Linked DNA regions of Homo sapiens. The protein of the gene in region 2 purifies or fractionates together with the protein of the main gene of each other region. This does not show direct contact. Each region holds a gene or a part of one and is shown on either strand. Other genes may lie near its edges.

Region 1 (3,652 bases), on a different chromosome or scaffold from region 2:
ACCTGGCCAACATGGTGAAACCCTGTCTCTACTAAAAATCCAAAATTTAGCCAGGTGTGGTGGCGGGTGCCTATAATTCCAGCTCCGTGGGAGGCTTAGGCAGGAGAATCTCTTGAACCTGGGAAGTGGAGGTTGCAGTGAGCTGAGATCGTGACACTGCACTCTAGCCCGGGTGACAGAGACACCATCTCAAAAAATAAAAAATGCTTTTAGTCTAGAACCACTTTAACCCCCTTGTTGTATGTGGGTCTGAAGCTCTGGGCAGCCCTAGCCCCCACTCCTGACTCTGCCCCTAACTCATACCACTCTGCTACATTCCATGTGAGTTGAATGCATGTTCATAGTTATTTTAGGTGTAGCAAAACTACATCTCATTTTAACCTTCTCATTTAAAACTCGTTAAAATTTGTACATAGGCTTTTCATCTCTTATTAGATCTTCCTTTTGCCCTATGCTATCATTAAAATGTGAAAGCAATTGGAAATACATGAAATATTTTGCTTTTATCCCCATGGCATTGTTGTAACATGGACTGTTGCCCCTTTTTAACTCTGCCCAATACTCTTCCATTGAGGCCGTACATACTGTGCATTTGTAGATTAACAGTTTCATTGTGGTTCAGGTACTTTAATGATTCCTACTTTTTCTAGAAATCTTTTTGTAGTTGACTTGAGTTGGTTGGCTGGCCAGTGATGGTACAGACTTTTTTCTCATGGATTTTCTATGATGTGTGGGAGGCACATCCTCTTGGCTGTAGAAGATGAAGAGGACAGAAATTTCCTTGGTCTACCTTCTTTGCAGCTAGAACATGATCAGTCAGATACTCCTACTCGTGATTTTGTCTCTGATTTGCCTATAGATTGTACATGAATACTATAGCCACCTTCATATGGCAGTGCCAGCAAAAGCAAGGAGATAGTAGTGACGGTATCAAGAGCAGCATCCCAGGTTGACTTTCTTTGGGGCAGGACCTTGCTTGTGTCTTAACCCTTGGTTCCTACCCAAGTTTGTCTCTCTAGTCCTCAACTCTGAAAGCCACTTGATATCTTACACAATTCCTTTTTTGCCTGAGAAAATAAAAGTCAGTTTTGATCATTTACAACCAAAAATCCTAACTAACACAGACCTGTTTTTGAAATCAGGTAGATTGGAAGTCTTGGTTTACTTCTTATAAGCCCGTCCGCTGTCTGTCTTGTAACATCCCAGGAGCAGACTTAACAAGGCCTTCCTGGAGCCTTGCTCTTTCTGTCTGCTTCCCTCATCTGCTCTCTCTCCTCTCTCTTCACAGGGTCCACTTCCTAACACATGCTGCCATTTCTGGCTTATGGTTTGGCAGCAGAAGACCAAAGCAGTTGTCATGCTGAACCGCATTGTGGAGAAAGAATCGGTGAGTAATATTTAATATTTACAACTTAGTATACTGTATGTGATCATTAGCATATAAAGATTTTCATTTTGGGGCCAATATTCATTCCTTAGTTTTGGCCTTTAATTGCTAAAGGCTAGCGGTCAAAGTGTTTCTGTCCGGAAAAACTCATGTATCCTTTTCCTTTCTTAAGTATTTTTATAACAATTGCAGACCTTTCATCTCCAAGATAGAAATACAATGGAATAAATATGGACTAGCAGTGACATATAGATCTTTGGAATCCCTAGGAATCCTTATTGACCTATTGTCAATAAGTCCTCTTCCAGCTTTAAGATCTTGTACTGTTCTACTTCAGATTTCTTACTTTATTCTACATTTCATAATTGCTGGTTTTTAATGATGATGAAAATTTCCTAATCCACTTCTAATTAGATGTGGCAATGACATGCCAGAATTTCCAGCAGTATCAGCATAGTCATTTACAGGGGTTTTTCCTGATCTTCAATATCATTTAAAAATTAAGGATTAGGCCAGGCACGGTGCCTCAAACCTGTAATCCCAGCACTTTGGGAGGCCGAGGCAGGCAGATCACTTGAGGTCAGGAGTTTGAGACCAGCCTGGCCAACATGGTGAAACCCCGTCTCTACTAAAAATACAAAATTAGCCAGGTGTAATGCTAGCTACTTGGGAGGCTGAGGCAGGAGAACCGCTTGAACCTAGGAGGTGGAGGTTGCAGTGAGCCGAGATTGTGCCACTGCACCTCAACCTGGATGATAGAATGAGACTCCATCTCAAAACCCACTGCACTGCAGCCTGGGCGGTAGAGTGAGACTCCATCTCAAAAAAGAAAAAAAAAAAAATCAAGGATTATGACATTGTCAGTTTGAGCACCATTGTAGACTACATGATTTGCAAATTTTATTTCTCTCATTTTGGAGTATAATTACTGTATTAATAAGATAACACTGCCACCAGAATTTAGAAATCATGTTTATGGTGGTTGAACCTAGATGGTTAACAAGAGTCAGGTTTAATTATTTTGGGGAAGATTACTTCAGAGGTGGTGGGTAATGTGTTATTCATCAAGAGACCCATAATGTCTGATTATTGTTCTTTTTATTTCATTAATAGCCATTATTGGTCAGTGTTCAGCTTCTTAATTCATTATGGGTTACAAATGATGATAATCCAATTCTGTCATTACTTCTCTTAAAAGCAGTTTTCCAAAAAAAAGTTGATTCCCTATTGAGGTCATCTGTTCTCAACAGATGACCAATTAGGAGTTTTTCTGGTGGAGAGTGGCAGGAGAGGTTGAATTATTATGGGTTTGGACATACTGGATTAATTTTACTCCTTTGCAGTTATTTTCCTTATTTTTGATCAAATTACCCTGTCATTGGCTAGCAGCAATGTCTTTAGGTTGGGTCCTGAGTCCTCTTTTTTTTTTTTTTTTTTTGGAGACAGAGTCTCGCCTGTTGCCCAGGCTGGAGTGCAGTGGCATGATTTCAGCTCACTGCAGCCTCCACTTCCCGGGTTCAAGAGATTCTCCCGTCTCAGCCTCCCGAGCAACTGGGATTACAAGCACCCACCACCATGCCCAGCTAGTTTTTGTAGAGATGGTTTTACCATGTTGGCCAGGCTGGTCTCAAGTTCCTGACCTCAAGTGATACGCCCACCTCGGCCTCCCAAAGTGCTGGGATTACAGGCGTGAGCCACCTCACCCAGCTCTGAGTCCTTTTTAACAAACCTTTAATAGTTTCCTTGGCTGGGTGCAGTGGCTCACACCTGTAATCTCAGCACTTTGGGGAGCTGAGTTGGGTGGATCGCTTGAGCCCAGGAGTTTGAGACCAGCCTGGGCAACATGGTGAAACTCTGTCTCTACAAAAAATACAAAAATTAGCTGGGTGTGGTGGCGCATGCCTGTAGTCCCAGCTACCTGGGGTACTGAGGCAGGAGGATCACTTGAGGCCAGGAAGTCAAGGCTACAGTTAGCTATGGTCGTGCCACTGCACTCCAGCCTGGGGACAGAGCGAGACCCTGTCTCAAAAAAAAAAAATTTTTTTTGCTGTCTGTAATGACTGCATCTCAGGCTCATCTCAAACTCTTGCTGCCCAGACCTGGAACCAGCCATTTCTCTAAGGAGTTTTGGTTTCTTTTAATGGGCAGCAGTATTTCAAGATCACAGCAAAAATAAGGATATATATTGCAACTGGACTGGTCATTGTTTTTAGGGCTTTTCAGTGGACAAAAGCTAAGGAACAATATGCATATGTTAAGATAACA
Region 2 (3,431 bases):
AGTCACCTGAGTAGCTGGGACTACAGGTGGATGCCACCATGCCTGGCTAATTTTTTTATTTTTATTTTTTGTAGAGATAGGATCTCAACATGTTGCCCAGGCTGGTCTCAAACTCCTAGCCTCAAGCGATCCTCCTACCTTGGCCTCCCAAAGTGCTGGGATTACAGGCATGAGCCACTGAACTTGGCTGAATGTACTCTTTAAGTGTCCATTTTCTTTCACTCAACATGATGTTTGTGAGACTCATTCACAGTGTTGTGTTTACATGGCTTATTTTTATTGCTGTGTTATATCATGTAACTTAACACAATTCGCTTATCCATTCTACTGTTCGTATTTGGTTTGTTTCCTGTGTGGGTCTATTATAAGTGGTGCTGCCATTAACATTCTAGTATATGCCTTTTGATGAATTATGTTTTCAGATCTCTTGGGTATATACACAGGGTTGTAATTGCTGGATCATAGGTTATGGGTATGTTTTTGGCTTTTGTAGATGCTACCACACAGTTTTACAAAGTGGTTGTAGCAGTTCACACTCCCACCAGCATGGTGATGCTAGCTACTACATGATGCTTCCTACACGTGCTCTACTAGGCAGTGTGTTATTTAATCTTCATAGCAGTCCACTTTTTGGATGAGGAAACTGAGGTTGAAGATTTGCCAAGGTGACGCAAGGTAACAGTTGGGGCTCAAAGTCAGTGCCTTGTCACCTCAAAACTGGAGCCTTTAATCCCTATGTTAACAACCCTCTAGGTATTTTTGATTTGGTGTAAGGCACTGTGGTAACTGGCTTGATTTGGAATCTTAATTGTCAGAAGTCAAGATAACCTCGGCCCTGTCACTGGTTAATACTCTATGGTGTGTATGCCAAGAATGTAATATCCCTGTGGAGTTGGTAAATTTTACTTTCGTAGGGAATCACTTTCTATTGATTGATTGAGACAAAGTCTCATTCCGTCACCCAGGCTGGATTTTGGCTCACTGCAACCTCTGCCTCCTGGGTTCAAGAGATTCTCCTGCCTCAGCCCCACTAGCAGCTCCTGCCTCAGCCTCCCTAGCAGCTGGGATTACAGGCGTCCACCACCATGCCCAGCTAATTTTTATATTTTTAGTAGAGCCGGGGTTTCACCATTTTGGCCAGGCTGGTCTCAAACTCCTGACTTCGAGTGATCCGCCTGCCTCAGCCTCCCAAAGTGATGGGATCATAGACATGAGCCACCGTGCCCAGCTGGGAATCACTTCTTTCTCAAAGCTATTCTTTGAGAAGCTATTTGGGAAACTGAGGCTTGGAGAATGGTAAAATAACATGTGAGCAGCACAGAAGAGCAAGAAATAAGGCTGGAGTTTGTTTATGGCTCACATGCTCCCCATGCTTTTCTCCATCTGCCTTTCTATGCTGTGTATTCTCTGCAAACTCATCACCACCGTGTGTTTTAGTCCACCAGTCTCCCTGGGACAGGAATTGGTATTTTCCTCAAAGCCGATCCTTGTCTTTCATATGTCTCCTGATGTGAGGTCATTCTGACTTTTCTTCCTACCCTATAGGTGTTTTTATTCTCAACCTTGTGTGCCGAGACTTGGGGCTAAAAGACTCAGTGCTGGCTGGGCTCAAGGCAGTGTTCCCCCTCCTATATGTCCGGCGAATTGAGGGTGAAGTGAATGAGATCCTGTTCTGTCAGCTGCACCCTGAGCAAAAACTTGCCACACCAGAGCTCCTAGAAACAGCCCAGGCTTTGGAGCGGACCCTGAGGAAGCCTGGGAGGGGTTGGGATGACACGTATGTCTTGTCAGATATGCTCAAGACGGTGAAAATTGTGTGACTGCTTAGGCCAAGCAGCCCTCCTGCCTAGACTGACCTTGGACTCCCAGCCTGCCAGAGAATGAAGAAATACAACGCACAGTACTTTTGAAGCTTCGTATTTTTCTTGGTTTCACACTCAGCTACATGTGACCTCCAGCTTGGTGAGGTTGCCTGAAGATTAGGGAAAATAAAAATGTCCTTCCCATCTTGTCCTCTTCAGTACCACTTGGGTTGGTTTGTCTTTGCTTCCTACACCACGTCCTTGAGTGGAGTTCCCTGCTGAAGCCCCTAGCACACACTGCATGCCTTAACAAGTGTGTGCAAGCCCCTCAGAACTCAAGACATCCAAATTTTATTGCGTCTCTACTTATACTGGTTTGCTTTTGATTTATTCCTCTATTAGTTCTATAGGAGTGATCTCAAGTGAGATAGCAGAGCAAGATGCCAAAAGACCATAAATAGAGTAAGGTTTCTATAGATGTGAGACAGATTTGAGAGAGCATTTACTCTGTCTCCCTGTGGATGAAACTGCTGCTGAAATGGTTCCAATTTTTAGGAATCTGCTTACCCACTTCATTATTTGACAGCTTTCCTTGGTGACCCAAACCTTGTAGCCTAAGCCATTTGTCTTTTTCTCAGTGGAGGGAGTGTATGGACCTGGCCCCATGGCTTTGCATGTTAGAGACCTGGCAGACTAAAGTCTCTAGTGTTTGTTTGCTCACATTTGCTGAGTGACAGCTATGTGCCAGACTGCATAAAGGGTGGTGGCAGAAGTGAAAATGTTTAAGAATGACCAAAAACATTAGTAATGAAAGTTAATGTGTTCCAGGCATTCTTCTAAGTGGTTTACATGCACTGTCTCATTTAATCTGAGATAAAGGATACTTAAGCCCAAACTATATCTAAACCCAAATCTCACTTGGCTGGAAACATCAATCTTAACCATTTATTCAGAACCATTAAACCAATGATTCCAAGACTGGCTTGAATTTTGTCTTTCCTAATTATACCGAGGTTGACTTAATGAGCAGTGCCATGGAAAATAGGCATTGTCACCATTCACCACCTGGCTCTTCTTTCCACAGGCCCTTTAAAAATGGACCCTGACCTTTCAGTTGAAGCATACAGATGCTCTTCAGCCTACGATGGGGTTATATCCTGATAAATCCATCATAAGTAGAAAATGCATTTAATACCCTGATAACCCATTGTAAACTTGAAAAATTGTAAGTCAGAGACTGTCTGTATTTCAGTTAGGTTGTCATCCTTAGAAAGTAGTGTCAGTCTGTTAAGGAGAGGAGGGAGTGCAGAGAAGTGTTTTTAGATCTTACCCATTAGAAATACTTGGTTCTCTTTCTTTAGGAGGGGATCTTCCCCTGGAACCCCGTAACGGGAAGATTATCCCTCATGTCAGGTCTGTGTACCCCAGAGGACCTTACTTGGCAAGTCCTTTCTTTTTTCTTCCTTGTTTTTGAGACAAGGTCTCTGTCACCCAGGCTGGAGTGCATTGGCACCATCACGGCTCACCGCAGCCTTGACCTTTTGGGCTCAGATGATCCTCCCAACTCTCAGCCTTCCAGGTAGCTGGGACTACAGCATGTACCACCATACCTGGCTCATTTTTTGTAGA
Region 3 (3,652 bases), on a different chromosome or scaffold from region 2:
AAGGCAGTGCTTGGTGTTGGCACGACGTGGACCCCAGAGGGCACAATCCCAGGGCAGAAAGGCTGTGTTTCTAGTGAGTTTCTGGAAACTGACTCAGGGCAGCAGGAATCCCAAGTACAAACCCTCAGTTCTTAACACTCCTGCTCTCCATGTGCCCTGACCTCCTCTCTGTTCCCGTCTTGCCAGTTCTAAAGGAGTGGAAATCGCTTTGCTCTAAAGAGTTGGGCTGGAAGCGGGAGGGGCTGTGAGCACCTGACTGAGGTCATTGGACGTCATGGAAAGATAGGAGGTGACAGGGACAGGGCAGGACGGGAGGCTGCCCCTGACCCACATGGACCTGGTTTCCAGGCCAGCCGCATGGGAGTGGAGGCAGTCATCGCCTTGCTAGAGGCCACCCCGGACACCCCAGCTTGCGTCGTGTCACTGAACGGGAACCACGCCGTGCGCCTGCCGCTGATGGAGTGCGTGCAGATGGTGAGTGGGCAGCCCATGGCCAAGGGCAGGGCGGAGACGGCTGGGACAGAAGCTGCTTGTCAGGCCAGCCTGGGCACCTTGGGTGTCTCGTCGGTGCACGATGCATTACACGGCCTTTCTGAGAAGGAGGTGAGCTGCCCGTGGGGAGGGAGAAGGCTTATGTTCTCTCCCACACCTGCAGAGCCTGCGCCGTCTTCGCTCTTTGGTTTTCTAAGTTACCATCCATCTGTGTGGCACATAGTCGTAACCTCCCCTGAGTGGGGGTCTAGAGCATCGGGATCCTCAACAGTCGAGGATCCAGGTGGCCCCAGTGCACCAGGTGCTGCAGAAGGACAGAGTGCAGGGAGGCAGCCGAGAGAGAGAGATCCGTGGACAGACTGCAGGGAGGCGGGCGTGAGAGAGACCCATGGGGCAGAGGGGGCAGGGAGGCAGGGAGGCGGGCGTGAGAGAGATCTACAGGGTGGTATTTTGTAGGGGAAGGTGGGACCTTCCCAAACTTCTCCAGTTTCAGCCATTTCCTGTCCTCCTATCCCCAAGGACATTCAGGTCTGTGATGGGACACAGGGAAAGCTCTGGTCACCCGAAGATACACCCACCCTTCTTGGGCCAGGGAACTGTCTGCCTGCAAATGAACAAAGGGAAAAGCAGTTCCAGCTTTTCAGGCATTGGTTCAGTAGTGGAGGTGGCTGTGGAGTTAGCTGCATTTGAAGTTATTTAATTAATTAATTTATTTATTTAGAGACGGAGTCTCACTGTTGCCCAGGCTAGAGTGCAGTGGCGTGATCTTGGCTCACTGCAAGCTCCGCCTCCTGGGTTCACGCCATTCTCCTGCCTCAGCCTTCCGAGTAGCTGGGACTACAGGTGCCCACCACCACGCCTGGCTAATTTTTTTTTTTTTTTTTTTTTTTTGTATTTTTAGTAGAGGTGGGGTTTCACCGTGTTAGCCAGGATGGTCTGGATCTCCTGACCTTGTGATCCATCCACCTCGGCCTCCCAAAGTGCTGGGATTACAGGCATGAGCCACCACGCCCAGCTGTTGTTTTATTTTTCAGAGTTCATTCATGATTCGTGACTCCTGTTTTGTTGCCTCTTAACACACACAAAGAAGTCGTGAAGCAATCAAGTCAGGGACTTGTTGAAAGTCACCTTGTAAACATAATTTCCAAAAGCCCAAGGGAGAAAATAGTATTTGTGTGTATGTGTGTGAGTGTGTGCGCAGGCTTGTGTCTCTGTGTGTATGTATGTATATGTGTGTGCATGTGTATCTCTGTATATGCATATACATGCAGGTTTATGCATATATTTATGCATGTGTGTGCATGTTTGTGAGGTAGTTTGGGTCTGCATGTATGTGTATGTTTATATGCATGAGTATGCATGTTTGTGGTAGTATGTCTGCATGTATGTGTGTGCATGTTTGTGTGCATGCATGTTTGTACGTGTGTGCATGTTTTTGTGAGGTAGTGTGTGTGCATGTTAGTGTGTGTGCATGTGTGTATATGCATGTGTACATTTGAGTGTGAGGTAGTATGTTTCTGCATGTTAGTGTGTGCATGTATGTTTATATGCATGTGTATATATGTGTGTGAGGTAATGCATCTGCATGTGTGTGCATGTATGCTTATATGCATGTGTGAGCATGTTTGAGATAGTGTGTGCATGTCTGTGTGTGCATGTGTTTATATGGATGTGTGTGTATGTTTGTGAGAGGTAGTATGTGCCTGCATGTTTGTGTGTGTGTGCAGGTATGTTTCTATGCAGATGTGTGCATGTTGGCATGAGTGTGAGGTAGCGTGTGTCTGCATGTTTGTGTGTGCAGGTATGCTTATGTGCATATGTGTGTATGTTGGAGTGTGAGGTAGTGTGTGTCTGCACGTTAGTGTGTGCCTGTGTGCATGTGAGAGGCAGTAGGCTTAAAAGGCTCAGAGCACTGAACGACATGCGGTACGTGTATTTTGAGCCTGTGTCTCATGTCTCTGCTTGTCTAGAGACGACCGTGGTAGGTGTCACTTGCCCTGACCTTGAAACCACCCTTGTGTGGCTTTGTTTTTAAAGCTGAGGGACCACTACTGTGCACCTGCTGTTTGTCAGGCGTCTTCCTGAGGGTCTGACATGCTTGAATAACCTTAGAGATAGCTGGAAGTAGGAGTATTTTTCTCATCTTACAGATGAGGAAATTGAAGTTCAGAGCGAGAAAGAACTTGACCAAGATCCTGACGTTGCCCAGGGCTGCCTGGCGTGCATCAGTCCCAGCCCCGTGTCCCAGGGCCTCCATCCGGGCCCCTCTGCTCCCCCGCCCGCTGTGACCTCGCTCCCATCCCACATCCCCCAGTGAGCTGGTGTGTTCTGTTTTGTTTTTCCCCACCATAATCAAATTGAGAATTCCTTAGAACCATGCCTGAGAGATTTCATTTCCTCTGGCTTTGTTCTCTTGGAGTTAAATCTTCACAGTGTTGTGTCCACAAACAGCAGGTGACACCTTCTCTTTTTCCTCAGAAGCCTCCTGAGCTAAGCAGTCCCAGGGCTCTGACCTCACAGCCGGGCCGTGTGGGGCTGGCTGCCAACCAGCATTAGGACACACTTGGCGGCCGGTCGTCTAGACCATTAACCCTGGGGCTGCTGGCTGCCCGGGTCAGACTGGAGGGGGCTGGTGGGAAGGACCGAGCCAGTCTCTACCTACCCCATCCATGATGCACCAGGTCCTGACACATTCTTTCTTCTTTTCATCATTGTTTTAAAAGACTCAGGATGTGCAGAAGGCGATGGACGAGAGGAGATTTCAAGATGCGGTTCGACTCCGAGGGAGGTGAGGTGCTTTGGAGAAAGCTCTGCCCTGTCAGGAACACACACCCCTCAGGCCCAGCCACTGCAAACGTGCTTAGGGGTTGTGCTTATTCCATGTCACTGTGAAAAATCAGAAAGTCAGGCAGTACTCACAGCACCGCTCTTGCAGTAGCAGGCCCTGGTGACTGGTTAGAGAGAAATCATTTTCTAAATTTGCCATTGGTCCTTTTTGGTAAGGTGATGGTTGTTTAGGAGCTAATGAGATTAAGGCACAAGGTGACTTGTGGCCCTTTAACAACAAACCAAAACAAAAAAAGGAGTCTCCTTCTGTTGCCTAGGCTAAAGTGCAGTGGTGCCATCTCAGCTCCCTGCAATCTCTGCCTCCCATGTTCAA

The links.
Region 1: the proteins of METTL13 (region 2) and PTPN2 fractionate together in Homo sapiens (co-fractionation; one large-scale study listed by BioGRID). This does not show direct contact.
Region 3: the proteins of METTL13 (region 2) and PFKP fractionate together in Homo sapiens (co-fractionation; one large-scale study listed by BioGRID). This does not show direct contact.

Annotation. Positions count from the first base shown.
Region 1 is NC_000018.10:12,828,678-12,832,329, reverse strand, and holds part of PTPN2 (tyrosine-protein phosphatase non-receptor type 2), read left to right. Parts: intron 1-1,288; coding exon 1,289-1,387; intron 1,388-3,652. UniProt on the Homo sapiens protein: Non-receptor type tyrosine-specific phosphatase that dephosphorylates receptor protein tyrosine kinases including INSR, EGFR, CSF1R, PDGFR.
Region 2 is NC_000001.11:171,794,937-171,798,367, forward strand, and holds the end of METTL13 (eEF1A lysine and N-terminal methyltransferase), read left to right. Parts: intron 1-1,545; coding exon 1,546-1,820; 3' UTR 1,821-2,780; downstream 2,781-3,431. UniProt on the Homo sapiens protein: Dual methyltransferase that catalyzes methylation of elongation factor 1-alpha (EEF1A1 and EEF1A2) at two different positions, and is therefore involved in the regulation of mRNA translation.
Region 3 is NC_000010.11:3,109,007-3,112,658, forward strand, and holds part of PFKP (ATP-dependent 6-phosphofructokinase, platelet type), read left to right. Parts: intron 1-348; coding exon 349-474; intron 475-3,215; coding exon 3,216-3,280; intron 3,281-3,652. UniProt on the Homo sapiens protein: Catalyzes the phosphorylation of D-fructose 6-phosphate to fructose 1,6-bisphosphate by ATP, the first committing step of glycolysis.